Linked DNA regions of Homo sapiens: region 1 is linked to region 2. Evidence: fine-mapped expression QTL. Tissue or cell type: whole blood. Region 2 holds a variant in brackets; the other region holds the start of a gene. All regions are shown on one strand. Distances are from middle to middle. Region 1 holds the start of LINC02648 (long intergenic non-protein coding RNA 2648). Region 2 has its middle 53 kb from the start of LINC02648.

Region 1 (9,299 bases), 54 kb before region 2:
GTTCTCTGATCCCTTACCTGTTCCTGCTATAGATGAATCCAGGATTCGGTGGTGCCTGTTCCAGGAACCTTTAGTGTGAAGGATCCTCCAGGTGAGAGAAGCCTTTATGTCTTCTGAAATGGTTCTGCTGTGTCCCCACCCAAATCTTGTATTGAAGCTCCCATAATTCCCGCGTGCTGTGGGAGGGACCCAGTGGGAGATAATTGAATCATGGAGGCAGTTTCCCCCATACTGTTCTTGTGGTAGTGAATAAATCTCACCAGATCTGATGATTTTATAAGAGGTTTCCCCTTTCACTTGGCTCTCTCATTCTCTCTTGCCTGCCGCCATATAAGATGTGCCTTTTGCCTTCCACCATGATTGTGAGGCCTCCCCAGCCACACAGAACTGTGAGTCCATTAAACCTCTTTTTCTTTATACATCAGCCAGTCTTGGGTATGTCTTTATCAGCAGCATGAAAACAGACTAATCCACCTTCTTTGGGCTTGATGGGTGGGGATAGGGAGAGGTGGAGATAACCTGCCTCACTGAGACCTATCATCTGGGTTCTAAGTGCATAATTCCTTGCTGGCCCCAGATACTGAACCAAGTTCTCCTGTGTTTAATTTCTTGCCTTTCCTTCGTGTCTACTCGAAGTTTCATGGCATCAGACGAATCTCTGCCCCAGCGGGGTCATATGAATTTCTTCTGAAACACTCAAATGCATAGGGCAATGAGAGAGTGGAGCATCAGCAGGCTGACATCTGTTCTTTAAGAACTCTTTAGCAGAAATAGTCAGACATAAATGTGCATGCTCATTTAAGCTACGCTCTAGGACACAGTTTCTCTAATGGCATCTTGTGAGATGTCACTGGTGATTCTGCAAGGGAGTGTGAATGAAAAAGTAAACCCTAATTAAAAAAATTTTTTTTGCAGTAGGTTACTGGGGGTACAGGTGATGTTTGGTTACAGTTCTTTAGTGGTGATTTGTGAGATTTTGATGCACCCATCACCCGAGCAGTATACACTGCACCCTATTTGCAGTCTTTTATCCCTTGACCCCTCCCACCCTTTCCCCCAAGTCTCCAAAGTCCATTGTATCATCCTTATGCCTTTGTGTCCTCACAGCTTAGCTACCACATATCAGTGAGAACATACAATGTTTGCTTTTCCATTCCTGAGTTACTTCACTTAGAATAATAGTCTCCAATCTCATCTGGGTCACTGCAAATGCCGTTCATTCATTCCTTTTTATGGCTGAGAAGTATTCCATTGTATATTTCTACCACAGTTTCTTTATCCACTTGTTGATTAATAGGCATTTGGGTTGGTTCCACAATTTTGTGATTGTGAATTGTGCTGCTATAAATCTGCAAGTATCTTTCTCGTATAATGACTTTTCGTATGAATCTGCAAGTATCTTTTTCTTATAATGACTTCTTTTCCTCTGGGTAGATGCCCAGTAATGCGATTGCTGGATCAAATGGTAGTTCCATTTTAGTTCTTTAAGGAATCTCCACAGTGTTTTCTATAGTGGCCATACTAGTTTACATTCCCACCAGCAATTAGAAGTGTTCCCTGATCACTGCATCCACGCCAACATCTACTGTTTTTTGATTTTTTGATTATGGCCATTCTTGCAGGAGTAAGTTGGTATCACATTACGGATAAACCCCAGTTTTTGAACTTCACATACTGCACAATGCTGGTGATGTAGCAGCCCTGTTGGGATTTTGTTAGGGATCCTTAATCCTTGTTGTGTTGCTGTGAACAGGACTGTGTTTATTTGCAGGAGTCCATTCTCAATTTTCTGTGCAAATTGGGGAAGGCTGTTGATAATCGGTGGATGCTATAGTGCCCATGGAAAGACTCTAGTCTGAAGATACCAGTCTCTCCCTCCCAAGATCACCTCCCCTGACCAACCTTCTGCACTCCTGACAGATACAAGGGAGCAAGCAAGTTGCACCCAACCTAATAGTAAATTGCAGGGACATTTCCATTCTAAGGAAGGAATTTTTGTGTGTGTTGCAACTCAGCTTCTGCTCTGGCATTTTGCTGTGGTAAGCATTGCAAGGCAAGGTTTATATAGGTTAGAAGAGAATTTTATTGTGACATTTTCTTTTTTTTTTTTTTTTGCAATTTCTGTTCAAGTATTTATTATGCCCTCTGTGTTATCATTTATTAGCATTTATATTGCCAATCATGTTGGAGAGTCCATGTGGTGATTTCTGAAAACGAGATGTGAGAAAGAAGAGGATAATTTAAGTCTAGACCTACAGATTGTGCTGATAAAGTGATGAAGAACTACAATCTTCTTAGTCATTTCATTGTATAAGTGCAATAAAGGGTATGTAATAAATTTGTATGTTCATATTTACAACGGAAACTGCTTATCAATGAATTTCACGGGGCATTTGTGTCTTGCCAGATTTTGTGTCTTTCCTGGCAAACAACTTGTGACCACAGTGATGGCTCCAGCAGAATGGAAAAGACCCTTTACCTCACATCTCAGAAGTAAAGATGCTGATTATTTGACATCGCCATTGGAATCTCAAAACAGTGTAAAGCATTTGCTAAAAAGAGTCACTTTCTGAGAAATGACTCAGAATTCGACTTACGTACTAGCAGAACTTATTGCCCATAAAAGGAAAGGCCACACTTTTTGTGAAAACTTAATAATCCCTAGGATGTAAAATTATACTGAGTTAAATCCTAGTCCCATTTTTAGTACAAGAAACTGGAAAAAAATAATCCACTCTCAAATGGTAAGACAAATTGAGATATTGCTGAAAAGCCTCTTGACCCTGAAAAGTTCTGAATAATAAACTGATAAAAGCAGCAGCAGCATCTAACTTGACACCAGTCATGTCATTTGTAAGTAAGGTTGGTAAATAGTAATGAAATTCAAGCAATATTTTCAGCTATGAAGAGCTGCTCAAACCAAGCAAAGGCCAAGATCTACTTTAAATTTTGTCTACGTATCTTTAAACAAGGCATCTGTCTTGGGGGCATTGTGTTAGCATCTGTACCGGTAACACCTCATCCAGGGTTGGCTTGATAAGAGGCTTCACATTTTTTGTAGAATAAGAAAAAAACCTGGCATTGTCACAACACACTGATTTGTTCATGCAGTAGTGCTTGGGGTCAAAAACTCTTGGAATGACCAGGCAGAGTGGCTCACACCTGTAATCTCTGCACTTTGGGAGGTCAAGGTGGGCGGATCACTTGAGGTAAGGAGTTCAAGACCAGCCTGGCCAATAGGGTGAAACCCCATCTCTCTTTTTTTTTTAAATTATACTTTAAGTTCTAGGGTACATGTGCACAATGTGCAGGTTTGTTACATATGTATACATGTGCCATGTTGGTGTGCTGCACCCATTAACTCGTCATTTACATTAGATATATCTTCTAATGTTATCCCTTCCCCCTCCCTCACGCTGCGACAGGCCCCGGTGTGTGATGTTCCCCTTCCTGTGTCCAGGTGTTCTCTTTGTTCAATTCCCACCTATGAGTGAGAACATGCAGTGTTTGGTTTTCTGTCCTTGCAATAGTTTGCTCAGAATTTTTTAAACCCCATCTCTACTAAAAATACAAAAATTAGACAGGTGTGGTGGCGGGCACCTATAGTCCCAGGTACTTGGGAGGCTGAGGCACTAGAATCACTTGAACCAAGGAGGCGGAGGTTGGGGTGAGTTGAGATTTCGCCACTGCACTCCAGCCTGGACAACAGAGTGAGACTCTGTCTCAAAAAAAAAAAATAAAGAAAAGAAAGTAACAAAAGGTTTGAATGCTCCTGCAAATACAGTCAAACAGGGATAAGTTCAACTGAGATTTTTAAAATTTTGTGAAAAGTCAGATAAAGAGACATCATCTTCTCCTCCAAACAGAAATGTCATGACTGTGCTTGAGGGATACTTTCAAGATGACACAAAACCAGGTTTTTGGAGTGCTTTGAAGATGGAGAATGGCTTATTAACACTAGTCACATTGGCAGATGTTTTTCATAACATCAACCAGTTGAATAAGCCTCTGCACAGCCCTGGAGAAAATGTTTTCACCAAAAATGTCAAGAGTTTTTGGATTTAAAAGAAAACTAAAGTTTTGGAAAAAACCATGAGGCAAAAGAAATCCTTGAGATGTTTCCATTGTTGCTTGGGCCTGGGGCCATCAGTAAGTCTCAATTCTTATTGAGCAGAACCTGGCAGCACTGTAGAATGAAACTGAACCATACCTACCCTCTCTTTAAACACAAGTGCATGACCAGGCGAGGGAGCGTTTCGTTGAATCTTTGACTCAGTCTGAGAACAGAGTCTGGAGAGAAGAGGAAGAATCCTGCACCCCATGCAACCCCAGACTCTCTAGATGGGACTCACATATCACTCTGGAGGCGAGTCCTGGGTTTCTGGGTAAGAGAGTGCTCTGTCAGCCTCAGGGAAACCATGAACACTTCACTGCAGTTGCAACTTCCCGCACATAGGAACAAATTTTCTGTTATTTAATAAACACCAAGAGCAAGGGAAAAAGTTGTAGCCCTTCAGTTGACAATGACATCTGTGTGTACCTCAAGTTTGACTCAGAATTGAATTTTTAGGCAGCACATGTGTCACATTAAAGAAGGTCAAGTTGATCACCAATGACCAATGGTTTAATCAGTCACGGCTTCGTAAAAACTAAAAAGGACAGAATTCAGAGGGCTTGCAGTTAGTGGAACACGTGGAGGGCCCTGGAGGGTGTCATGCCCAGGACATGATAGCTCTGTACCCCATCCCATGTATCTCACCATATGCATCTCTTCATCTGTGTCCTTTGCAACATTCTTTAGAATAAACCAGTAAATGTGTTTCCCTGAGTCCTGTGGGCTGCTCTTGCAAATTAATCAAACCCAGGGAGAGTCGTGGAAACCCTGACTTGATGCCAGTTGGTCAGAGTTCAGGAGGCTTGGACTTGCAACTAGGAGGAAGGAGGGGGTTGGGGACTGAGCCTACAACCAATGGGATTGGTCACTATCTCCAGGTAGATAGAGTTGGAATTCAGTTGGAGGACACCCAGCTGGTGTCCACTGCTTGGTGGTGAGAAGAAACTCCCACACCTTTGGTCACAGAAGTCTTCTGTGTTTATTGTTCTAGTGTGAGAACAGAGGAGAAGCCTGGTTTGAGTGAGTTTTTCCTGAAGCAAAAGGGAAGAGCTTAATTTCAAAAGGTAAGTTAGTTATATTTTTCTCTAGGAAACAATTGATTGCTTAAAAAGATATGATTAGGCCGGGGGCAGTGGCTCATATCTGTAATCCCAGCACTTTGGGAGGCCAAGGCGGGCGGAACACCTCAAGTCAGGAGTTTGAGACCAGCCTGGCTAGCATGGCGAAACCCCGCCTCTACTAAAAATACAAAAATTAGCTGGGCATGGTGGTGGGCGCCTGTAATCCCAGCTACTCGGGGGGCTGAGGCAGGAGAATCGCTTGAACCCAGGAGGCGGAGGTTGCAGTGAGTTGAGATCATGCCACTGCACTCCAGCTTGGGCAACAGAGCGAGACTCCATCTCAAAAAAAAAAAAGATATGATTAGTTTTAAACAAGGGAAACAAATTCCACTTGCATGTACTATGTGTCACACATCTTTAGCCTTTTGTATCCTGAACATCATTTAAAACTTCCCTCCAGATTAGAAAGTTGAAGTCTGCTCATGGGGCCTTCAGTTGCTGTCTTAGAAATTCACTCTCAGGGTGTCAGAAAGTCCATCCTCCATAGGCATTTACAACAAGGAATTTGATTCCTTCTATCCCTGGTCAACTCCAGGCTTTTTAAAAAAGTAGCTTAATAAATATTAAGAGTGCATTTTTCTTTGTGAAGTTTGACACTCATTAATTAACACAATTGTTGGAAATGGGAATTTTTTTTTTTTTTTTTTTGATGGAGTCTCACTCTGTCACCCAGGCTGGAGTTCAGTGGCATGATCTTGGCTCACTGCAACCTCTGCCTCCTGGGTTCAAGCGATTCTCCTGCCTCAGCCTCCTGAGTAGCTGGGACTACAGGCGCGCACCACCATGCCTAGCTAATTTTTGTATTTTTAGTAGAGGCGGGGTTTCACCATGTTAATCAGGCTGGTCTCGAACTGCTGACCTCGTGATCTACCCTCCTCGGCCTCCCAAAGTGCTGAGATTACAAAGATTAGTGGTAGTAAAGCGGTATGGGTGGCCTAAAATATTTTAGAGACATTACTTACACTTAGAATAGCAAATTACATCCCTATCTGGGCCTGTGTTTAGAATGAGTCAGACGGTTTTTTGTTGCCTGGTGACAGGCGTTGGGGTCACAGAGTCCTCTTTCTGCGATGTTGTGTATGACCCAGAGAGTCTCTGGCAAGATGTGGACAGATCTCTAAAAGGTCGGGGAGCTCAGTCTCCACGAAGCTTGCAGAACCCTCCCCATCTGCCTGCTAATAAACGATTACGTATAAAAATGTCTAAATACGTGGTGGTGTTGAATCTGTGACTTGGTTTTATTATAACCAGGTGGCAGGAAAGTAGCCAACCCTCACTCACATAGAACTTTCCACACTACTGTTTTCTCTTCCAAAATAACCAAGAATTTTTCATGGTCAAGTACAAGTGGAAATGGCTGTCGGTTTGCAACAGCCAGGTTTACCAATGGATAGTGTTTTGCCAGGGGGTGGGACCTAGAATGAAAGGGGCAAGAGATCTGAAGGATGGGCAATGGGAGTGGTTGCACTATGGATCTGTAGAATATTCATCCTCCTAAACTGAATTAGGAGGAATGTAGTCATGGGGGTGGTTAAATGATGAGAAAATATGATGGAGTCTACTGATTGACATGAAGGAAGAATTTTTGCCATGTTCTTTTTAATGTTTTTCTTTTTCTCCTCTAAAAATAAGATTTCAGTAGTGTGACCACAAATTAAACCTTAATGACACCCTAAGTAAAGAAGAGACTGGCCCCTCAGGGAATCCTTTATTATTTAGTATGGTAACTTGCTTCTTGATTTTACAAATATGAATTCTCTTGAAGAGAAATTTTGATCTAAGGCCAACTTTTCCCTTAATGGTTCCTTTGTGTCCATGAAGAGATGGTAAATGCATACAAAGTTATTAGCAGCACTTTTCATAAAATAAAATTTAACACAGAAATTTGCTGCAAAATTAACTGCCAAAAGTTTTATATAGAAATGAATTTCGGGTTAACCACTATTTTATTTTACATTGAACATGGAAATTCACAGAACTTATTGACTTTATTATTCCACTATGTTCTTTCAACATAATTTGCTAGTCTATTAAACTCTTGCCCAGGAAAATAAACCTGAAAATAACCTTATTGCTCATTTCAGGAATATCTTGAAAGACGCATCAACTCACCATTAGAAAACATGAAACGACAGATTATATCCTAAGATTGTGTGAACCTCTTACCTGGAAACCCGTACAATTGCTTTATCTACCAATCCTAAACTATTATATCTTGATCTTTACTCAATCCTAATTACACACCCACATTGAAAGACCTATCTTAATTCAGACTTCAAAATCTTACAAACGTCCAAGTCCCTCCTTTGAAATGCTACTAAGACTGCAGTAAGAATACATGTAAGTATAAACATATCTATATTAGCTTTTTTTAAAACAACAGTGTCATTATCCTTTTTGTGAAACCATATGCTAACATTTATTGAGCATTAATAAGCACTGGGGCTGAGCACCTTCTCACACTGAGTTCTCAAGACAACAGTGTATGAAAGGTACTATTATTATTCCCACTTTACAGAATGGGAAAATGAGGCTTAAAAACATTAAATGCAGTAATTTCCCTATGGTTGCACAAGTAGGAAGGAGAGGGGGCCAGGAGCCCTGGTCGTTTACCCTCAGAGTCCACCTTTTGAACCAATGTTAATCTTCTTTCCAATTCTTTTAGATAAGAATGGTTCTTAATCATGTGCTGCATGTTTCACTGAGTTTTCTTCTTATCTCCTCTTCTAATCGAAACCAGAAGACCCAATATAATATCTAGTGTTCTCACCCAGCCCACATGCTCAATGCTGTAAAGCTGAAAATGGATCCAATGCTGTCGCAGAGAGGCAGAGAGTGAATTCCCAAGAGTTATGAGTCATCCATTCCCCTTTCAGAGCATGCAGTGACTGAGAGGAAGAGAGATACTAACACTTGAAGTAATCCAGTCTATCAATAGGAGATGGACTGCTTTGATTTAAAGCGATTTACAAAAGGATTTGGATACCTCATCTCTCCTGTTTCGCCAAGGTCTTGACTCATCGCTGCAGGTTGTATAATTAGTCTCATTAATCTAGCAAATGATGGCAAAATGCTTGGTAATGATGTCTAACTGGGGTTCCTTTCCAAGGAACCTTTGTTGTTTAATTAGGAGATAATGGATGAGCTTGTAGAGAGACCAGGGTTATAAAAGGCAGTAGCATGTCAATGTGCCCATGCCTAGTTCAATACAATGGTTTTTAAGCCAAGTATTCAAATAAATTGACATTATGTAGGTACATGAATTTAAAAGGGGTCATTATTCACTAACTATATTTTAACATATGCTTAGAGCAACCCATTACTGCTGGGGATAATAAACGGTGCCCAGATGAACAACCACATTGCATACAAAGGATGGTGTCTGAGATCACTACTGGGCCCGACTTAGCCACCATCTTTCCAAATAGAATCATAGGTTTGGAAATTTATCCCTTCTATGGATGAAGCACCAAACTATTAAACTGCAAAACCATTCTGTATTTATTCTTTCCAGCTGCAGTTCCCTTGACAATAAATGAAGAGTTTGTCCTCTGATTATGTTTGATTTGTTCTCTTATTTACCCCAAAAGATTATATTAAAATTTATATTTCAGTTTGGATGGTTTCAGTTGTAAGTAACCAAAAAGCAAACTCAGACTGTCTTAAACAAAAAGGGAGATCTAGCGGCTAGAGGCAGAGCAGGCCTAGCTCTTGAATCAGAGTCCTGGTTTTAGTCTTTGATGTGTCTCTCCACCCTGCCCTTCTCTGACACTCAAATTTCATGGGTGCTACACGTAGAGGGAGGGTAGCATGGAAGGTGTGGAGATAACTACTATGTCTACTTACGTGTCCACGAGTAACCTCATCACCACGTTGGGAGAAGCTACATACGATACTTTTTGGGAGAAACTGAGCTCCGGAGCTGCTTGGTCAATCTCCCTGTAACCGAATCACAGGTTCACTTGATCACCACCTGCAGAGTCCAATCAACAAGAGCAAGGTCTGGTATAAAGAAAGTGACATTTTATTCTAAAGCTAGCTTACGGGAAGAAGTCCAGGCTTCC
Region 2 (9,299 bases):
GCACTATTCATTACGGACACCAGACCATCACTCAGGGAACTGCAGTACAGTTTACTAAATGGGACTGTTGTGGTCGTGTGGATGACTGGGAGACTCTGTCTTATTATGGGCTTTCTACTTATATATTTCCTTTGCTATTTTTATTCATCAACATGTAACTGGACATCCCCTCTTCCACTGCATTTCAGGAGTCTGAGATGGAAAAGTCATCGGTGTTCACTCATATCACAGCTCTAAGTCACTGTGTGTATTGACAGTGCATTCCAAATGAATCCCATAAATGTATTTAGATATGTACATTGCCTTGAAAATTATGTAGTGCTATTTTGTATATACTTTGTGTAATGACCTGATGCTTATTTGCTATAAAAAAATCTATCAGTTTTTTTCTTCTAAAATGTCGAAAATTAAGAGTGTCACAAAAGTTTTTTTTATTTTGCTATAACTATTCTACAGTTATAGCAAAACTAGACTTGTATTATTTTGATGCCTTAATCCAGCCACAGCTGTGCAATATCCAATTTCCAGTAGCGGGGAAGAGTCAGACTCAATGTCAGAGGATCATAGCTCCCCCTCCTGGCCCTGTGCAATTTGTAAATCCTGCTTTTTTCGATTCTTTGGTTACCTATGTCAGACTTAACCCCTTGTAGTTATAAAGGGAAAGCTATCTGAGGATTCTCAATCTTGATTCTTTGGGCCATTTATTATGAACTTGTCAGAGCCAATAAACTTCCTGTGAAACGAAGTTGTCCAGATCAGCACTTTAGAACTTTCCGTGATGATAGAAATGTTTTATATCATGTTACCCACCGTAGTAGCCATGGGCACCTTTGGCTAATGTAACTGAGCAACTGAATTTTTAGTTTTACTTAATTTTAATGAGTTGAAAATTAAGAAGCCCGTGTGTATAGTGAATACCGTGTTACATAGTATAGTATAGACACTAGTGGATTCTCTCTGTAAACGTCTCGTTCTGCTGGGGTGTTGCCACTCCAATCACTTACCAAGTTTCCCTAATCGAGAAGAGGAAAGGACAGTTGCACCACACTGTGCCCAAAGTATCCTTTATTCTTCCTTCTGGCATACTTCCCAGCACTTGCTTCTTCAGGGAGCAAGGCATGGCTATGAGGAACATGCGGCTTATAGTTATTTTCTGTGTTATGATATAGTTTGCTTCAGCATCCTTAAGTAACAAAGCCAGCTCTGCACATTTCAGATATAGTAATCTTCAGAAAGGTGCTGGTATTGGCTTGGGTGACACATTATTCACAATAAGCCAGAGAAAAGAAAAAATTGGACATGTAAAGGTGGGCATCTGGACTTTACTACAGTCTTATCTATTTGTGTAGAAGAAATAAGAGATATTTAAGGGTAATCCTAGTGGTAGTGCCAAGGGGGATGACTGGTAATGGGCGAACCTTGAGCATCTTAATCAACAGCATCCACAGCCACCCCCTGAAACCACCCTGGAGAAATGCACCATCTAAGAAAAAACAGTGGCCAAATCTACCCACAGGCCCCTTTAAATAAAAATTCTAGATCGTCCCAAAGTAAATCTGATCCACATAAGAAGTGAATTTGTAAAGCAGTTAAAATTGAGGAGTCTTCATTTGTTTTAGAAAATGATCCACCAAAGGTTTTCTTTACATAGAAAGTCCTTCTAAAGCATTTAATGGTGCAATAAATAGCATGAATTTTTGGAGACATTATGTGAAAAGCAAAGATTCCCCTGTATTTTATAAACCAGAGACTAATGCTCTGAAATAGCCCCGAAGCCCATTACGGCTCAGCATTCCTTCAGGTTTCCTCAGGGAGCTGCCTATAACTTGGTAATGGTATTACTTAAGATTGAAAATTGTTTTGAGGCGGGTTTTATAGAAGACATGAGACAAAGAAGGTTTATTGTGTTGTGTTGTATTGATTTAATCTCTTTCTATCACACACTGAAATTGTTGCTTTTAAGGAAATAGATACATTTTACTGAGAGTTTCAAGGGAGCTGGGATATATTTTGCTAACAGATCAAATTTTCAAATTCAGCCTTTTCAGTCATTCAGACAGAGAAGAAATGGAATCATTTACAAGACAAATAAAAGGGAGAGATAAATGAGGCAGAAGTCAATGTATACAGCCCTTGCGATTGTCATTACCGGTCTCTGACACAAGAGGGAAGCAGAAATTAACTCAAGATGTCTCCCTATTTGTAATTCAAGTCATCCGCAAATAGTCCATTATATGGTAAAGTGGACAAGCACTTAAAGAAAATAGTTAAATGTTCTCATTATGGAACAGTTTATTGTTATTTTAATATTGGAAAGAACTCCCAATACCTATTTTGCTGCCAGAGGGAGTTTATGGAAAACAATGCACATAGGATTTAAGAGATTAGATTGAAAGTCAAACAAATTTGGAGTCAAGTTGGGCTCAGGTTCATACTGACTGGGTAACCTTGGACAAACCACTTAGCCTCTCTGAGCCTCTGGAACGGGATGATAATATTTGCCTATATCCCATAATTATTGCAAGAATTACATGAAATAACGTGTAGGAGGCACATATTTCCAACATAGGTGAAATGCCCCATAAATGGTAGCTGCTATGATTCCTTTTTGAAATTTCTTGAGATAAATTGTTTGCCACTCTTGTTTTGTGAGAATTTTTTTCCAGCCCTATTGAGGTATACTCAACAAATACAAATGGCATCGATTGAGGGTTTATAATAGGATGTTTTGATATATGTGTACGTTATAAAATAATTACCACAATCAAGCTAATTAACATATACATCAGGTCACATAGTTACAATATTCTCTGTGTGGTGAGAACACAATAAAATCTGTGAATGAGAAAAATAGAAAGTCTCAGCAAATGAATAGAAATACAAAGGAGAACCAAATGGAGATATTAGAATTGAAAAAGAATGAAGTGAGTTCAGCAAAGTTGCAGGATACAAGCACGATATACAAAATCAATGGTACTTCTATGCCATTAATAATGAACAAATAATCGAAGTGAAGAGAATTCCTGGCTTCATATCTAGCTTTCATGTGATAAACAGGGTCATGGTACTATTTGGAATGAAAGAGATTTATGAGGGCGATGATGCCTTTGTTCTCATATATTTAAAAAGTGGTTATGGTGATAGGGTTAAGGGCATTTATTAATTATTCTCTTTCTGAAAAAGCAAAGCTGTGTCACTTGTCAATGTCAAGGGACAGTGATAATATACTGCAAGTAGATGGGAAGGAAGTCTGGATACAGAGGAAATGAAGTATAATGAAGTTTTGGGGCACCGTCTTCTGGGTTGATAGTGTTCTCTCGCCCTTCTCTGGCACTTATCTTAGAGGCAGTGGAAGCTGCATCCTGCTGGGATGCCTCAGCTACATGTGCCTGTACTTTGTGGGTGCTCTGGCTGGGGATAAACAGATCACTTTGCTTTTTAGGTAAACAGAACAGGAAGGAGGGACACTGAGGCCAGACAGGACAGTTACTGGGAAATGGACCTAGCTCTTTGTTTAAAAAGCTCTTTAAGGCATGGTGGATAAAATATGTCCTTAGCTCTGGCCTGTTTTGTGCAAGTGTTTGTATCAGACAAGCCTTGCCTGAAAAGTGGAAGATTCCCAGGGCAGTGACATCACAGTAGTATTATAACCAGTGGGTAAGGCAAGAGGTTGGAATGTTTGAACCAAGAGGGCTGGCACTTAGAGCACTGCTTAGACCCTGAGCATGCATTGGATTGCTTGTTAGGGAAACTGAGGCAGAAACTCAATCCTATGTACTGGATTAAGATAGTGGGGCAGGAGGTACATTAAGTGGGCACTCTGAGCTTCCCCTGAATCCCTAGTTACTAAATCTGTTAGCAGCAAGAATGAGGATTCTGTTCTGCTTCTTGCCCCTTTTGGGGTTGGCCCAGAAATCTGCAGGCAGAACCAACAGCAACTGGTTGGAGAAAGCAGAGGCAAGGTTATATGAAAGACACTTACTGCCATGAAGATTAGTTGGCCTAATTAGCTTTTCTGCCAGATACTCGAAGAAGCTCTTAATTTTTACTTGTGAAAGTACAGCAAATTTAGTTCCTCTCATGAATGGACAGAAAATAAGTCTTCACAATCTCAGTCTAAAATGGGAAGGGGTTTCTAGGCCTAAAATTTAACTGGGAGGGTAGACAATTTAACTTTGCTTGGCCAACGCTTTTTATTCAACAGTAAGCTCAAGTTGCAAGTTTCGGAAAGTGTGACGGGGCCTAACATGGAACCCAAAGGGCCACCAGAGTACTTGTGCCAAAGAAGTTAAAGACATTGTCGATCACAGTACAGATGGATGCTTGCAGTTCTTTTACAGAGCACTGAGGAATGAGAGTTTTAAGTAAAGCAGGTGCAACCCATTCCCTGTTGAGGTACTTACCTACGATCTCTCTTCATTTAACGAAAATCCAGTTTGTTATAGAAAATTCTGAGTGATATCAGATGAATTATAAACCATGGTTTCCCCCTTTAGGATGGAATCTATTGAGTTAATGATTTTCTGCCAATGTTATTATCTGTTCTCTGAAAATGATATGTGTGATATGTGTGATATCATATCCCTGAAGACACTCGAGATGGCTGAAGGAGGAACAGCTTTCAGAACTTAGATCTTCAGAGCCCTTGGCCACTCTCAGGGGACTAAACCAAGATTTTGGCACCTCATTTTGCGTGTGTATAAAATATGTAAGTGACCTCTCTCCACTATTTTAAGGAAAGGCTAACCCATGCATATTGGAAATACAGAGGAAATGCACAATAGGGAGTCAGAGAAGAAGAATTCAAATACGATCAGGTCAGCTTTGCACAAACACATGAGACATTCAATTCCCAGGGTCAAAAAAGCGGATGTCAGATCGCTGCCAAGTCTGCTGGGAATCTCAAATCCCTCCGTGACCTGTTCCTGGACTTCCTTCCAGGCATGGTGCTGAAATGAGACGGATACTCCCTTACATTTTCTCTGGATTTG[G/T]GGGCATCTTGCACCAGATTCAGAGTTCTTTTGGCTTCAGCCCCTAAAAACCTGACTGTGTCCTCTCTTCTTTATGCTTTTTTCTTCTATTTTTCCCATTTTTCATGCATGCTCACAAACTGGTAACTGAGACTGATTCTGCCAATCCTGGAAGCATCCTCTCTGTAACTATTTTCTGGACCATGTCTCCCCTCCCTCTCCTCACCTTGCACTGGATTTTGAACCCCTTGAGCTCACATCCCTGCAGATACATAACACGCTTGAAAATGTCTATTGAATGCGTGAAAAAATGAGTGTTTTTTTTTTTTTTTTTTTGAGACCGAGTATCACTCTGCTGTCTGGAGTGCAGTGATATGATTTCGGCTCACTGCAACTTCTGCCTCCCAGATATCAAGCTATTCTCGTGCCTCAGTCCCTGGAGTAGCTGGGATTGGATTATAGGCATGCGCCACAATGCCCAGCTAATTTTTGTATTTTTAGTAGAGAAGGGGTTTTGCCATGTTGGCCAGGCTGGTCTCAAACTCCTGGCCTCAAGTAATCCACCCACCTTGGCCTCCCAAAGTGCTAGGATTACAGGCATGAGCCACCACCCCTGGCCTGCGAGTGTTTTTCTAGGGCTAGAAGCCAGGAAGGAATGCTGGACACGATCATGTCATCACTTTGGGAGCCTATGCCAGCTTTCTACTGAAACTTCCAGAAGATTATTTTTTCTTTTTAAAATCATTTTTGTCATCTTAAACATCTCTGTACGTGCCTATTCCTGCTTTGTGTTTTCTTCTAATTCCCAGTTCACTGGAAGAGTAAAGACAGTTGACATTGTCGGAGTCTGGGAAACAGTCCATCCCTCCCTGGCTTTGGTTACCACCAACTACCTCGGTTCTCCTCCTTCAATATTCAGTTACCATTACCCCTGGGGCAGTGTTTCTTATACAATATCAAAACACTTCAAATATATAGAGACATTAGCAGTCAAAATTTCCATCAAAGGGAGAAAATAAAACCACCTTTTTTTTTTTTTTTTTTTTTTTTTTACTGAGTCAAACTCAACATTGTCACCCAGTCTAGAAAATATGCTTTCCCTGCAGTTCTTGCTAATTGCATTTTACTGCTGCTGCCTTCTGTTCTAAAGAAGAGAAGAGAACTATTCTGGAAACTATAATTGGATGGTATCATCAGTTATTATTTCCGAGGGAGGTCAAAGGTAGTCATTAGTTTTAGCAACTAGTGGTTCAATGAAAACTACCTGCAACAATGCAATGGGAAGCCATCTCTTTTAGTGAACAGAATTATTTCATACTCAATATTTGTTCTCTCTCTAAATATGTCAATGGAAATAAAAACATATTTCCGAAATAAACGGTGGCTTTATGAAGATTTTTTTCTTGAGATACGTACAATTCTCACCTTGCTTGGTTGACTTAATAAGCCCTATGGAGGCAAAATGATATGTGTGGTTGACGTACAATCACAACGTAAAAAACATTCCCGAGGCTTGCACCATTTAAAGGCTTGTTCCAAAAACATCAGACTCTCCGAGAGAATACAGGTACTTCAAACTCCCTTTTCTTCTGTGAGTACCATTGACATTCATGATTATCTTAGCTTAGGTGTCAGGAAACAGCCAATAATTATTGTCCATTTCAGAAGGAAAAACAGCATAGAATTATTAGAGGTATGGTAGGATTGGGGTTTTCTGCCTTTCGAAGTGAGTTGAACATGAAATAACAAAAAAGCAAAAACTGTAAACATTTAGAAGGAAATTTTACCAATTTTTGGAAGAGAAATATAATAAAAGTTTTAAAGGGTTATTTGTTTGGAAACAATAATGATCTTGAAAATGCAGCTCGATCCACCAAAGCAGTCACTTCAATATGGAAGCGGATCCTCATGGAGAGCTCACAGCTGCCTGTACCAGCTCAGAATCCACTGGATCATTTCACTGATCTTGGATCTATCTAAAAAAGATTACAGAGTAAACAATTCTTCAAGCCACAGGATCTTATGGTGGGTATTTTCTGTTTTGTTTCTGTCTGTAAAAAGTGAATTATAAAAACAAAACAGAAACAAACAAAAACCCCATCTCCCTTCTTTTTTTCTATTCGTTATTCCTGAACAACATCCACTTCCTTTTCTGCTCTTGTCTACCTTTGCAATTTCTGGCACAGATGTGCTATGCTGAGTGCCAAGTTTAGGTCCACAGATGTCGTCATAAAAAACAGGAACTAGAAAATTAGAAAATCTCAGTGCTTTGCAATGCTTATTAGCGCAAAACTGCAGCAATATGCTTTATAGTTTTTACTAGTAGGCTCTTGGGGGCAAGTCTACTCATTGGTTTGTGGACTTATTCTTACTACAAAATGGATCATTCTGTATAGACCACATCTCTTGATTAAGAGATGTGTCTATGGGACTTAAAAAAAAGGTGAAACTCTGATGTATGATTCCTGGTGTACTGTCCAACAACAACAACAAAGAATTTAGGGGATGGAGGGAATCAAGATTCATCTGGTATATAGTTTAAACTCCCTCTCAGTGTAGAAATTGTCCCAGCAACATCACATAATCCTTGAGTTTTAGAGTTGACGAGGACCTTAGAGAGATAACAGGGCAACTCCTGGAACCCACAACCTCACATAGAAACTCTCTGTAGAACACCCAAGCTGGATGGCTGCTTAGCATGGAAACCTGTGCAAGACACATCATTACCTTTTAAGAAATCTCAATATTTAGAAACAAGTGCATTTTAGAGAATTGTTCTAAATTGAATTGAATTGTACTGAATTGTATTTCAATAGAAACAAAAACATATTTCTGAAACAAATGGTGACTTTATCAAGATTTTTGTCTTGAAATACGTATAATTCTTACCTTGCTTGGTTGACATATTGAGGCAAATGGTATGTGTGGTCGAGGTAGAATCAGAACTTAGATGACAACATACCTGAGGCTTGTTCCATTTAAAGGCTTGTTCCAAAAACAAGTGAATTGTTCTGTTTAGAGAGCTGATTTCTAGCCTCTTGATGAATCCATGCATGGGTTCCGCCTCTGACTTCTGGAGCCTCACAGAAAAAGCTGTGCATTCCTTTAGTGTGCCTGGCCTTCAGACAGCTGAGGTCTCCTGGAGCAGCCTCCATGGAGTTTTCTCCATTTCCAAATCATCCTAGTTGTTTTATTCCCCACTCCTGGATAGGGGTTCTTCTTACCGTCCCTCTTCACCATCACGCTGACCGTCTTCCTGGGTGAGTCATGGCCTGACTGTTCTTTTCCTAAAATGACGTGTAGGTGTGACCACCCTGTAGGGGTGACCTGATTTATAAAATGCATCCTTTCTATGGCACCCTTTTGTTACATTAAATTAACAACATCCTTCTTATATGGCAGTTAACAGTCTGTCTAAGAATATTTTCAGCTTTATGAATTAATCTGTGCCTCTTAGTTTATGGTAAACCATTCTGCTTTTTAATTCTCAATTCCGTTCGAGCCACTTCATGTAGGTTATTTGACTTCTTAAAGAGCGAGGCCAGTTTCCGAAGTGGTGCTCTGAAAGGTCCGCCATCTCAGAGAATCAAGTCTCACAGTAAGGAAAAAAAGAAGAGACTGGATAAAAGGAAACGATTTTATGGACAGAAACACACTCTTTTTTTATTTTATTTTACTTATTTTAATTTTATTTGATTTTAAATTCTGGGGTACACCTGCAGAACGTGCAGGTTACATAGGTAAACTTGTGCCATGGTGGTTTGCTGCACCCATCAACCCATCACGTAGGTTTTAAGCCCCGCATGCATTAGGTATTTGTCCTAATGCTCTCCCTCCCCTTGCCCCCCAACCCCTGACAGGCCTCAGTGTGTGATGTTCTCCTCCTTGTGTCCATGTGTTCTCATTGTTCAAGAAACAAACTCATTTTAAAAATCTATCGTAAGGAGCTTGAGACAAAAAGTGCTAAAACACCACAGATACTAGGTAAGCCAGTGGTAGTATTTAAAGACACTGAAGCAGTAGAAATTTGAGATGTTGTTCCAGATAACACAAGTACCTCCCACTGATTAACATTTTGTCCTACAGTTCTGTTTTAAAATTCTTTTATGGGTGCTGGGAAAACTGGCTAGCCATATGCAGAAAGCTGAAACTGGATCCCTTCCTTACACCTTATACAAAAATTAATTCGAGATGGATTACAGACTTAAACGTTAGACCTAAAACCATAAAAACCCTAGAAGAAAACCTAGGCAATACCATTCAGGACATAGGCATGGGCAAGGACTTCATGACTAAAACACCAAAAGCAATGGCAACAAAAGCCAAAAT

Evidence for each region. PIP is the estimated chance that this variant, and not a neighbour inherited with it, causes the effect.
Region 1: it holds the start of LINC02648, and the variant in region 2 is the best candidate, but not a certain one, in a credible set for the expression of LINC02648 in whole blood (INTERVAL, PIP 0.89).

Annotation. Positions count from the first base shown.
Region 1 is chr10:6,613,599-6,622,897 of GRCh38, forward strand. It overlaps LINC02648 (long intergenic non-protein coding RNA 2648), which reads left to right and starts at 5,118. Exons shown (of 6, transcript NR_120634.1): 1 at 5,118-5,178; 2 at 7,320-7,575; 3 at 8,112-8,264.
Region 2 is chr10:6,667,300-6,676,598 of GRCh38, forward strand. No RefSeq gene overlaps it. Among named protein-coding and RNA genes, the nearest start is that of LINC02648, 53 kb to the left of the region's middle. The variant G/T (reference allele first, on the strand shown) is at 4,992.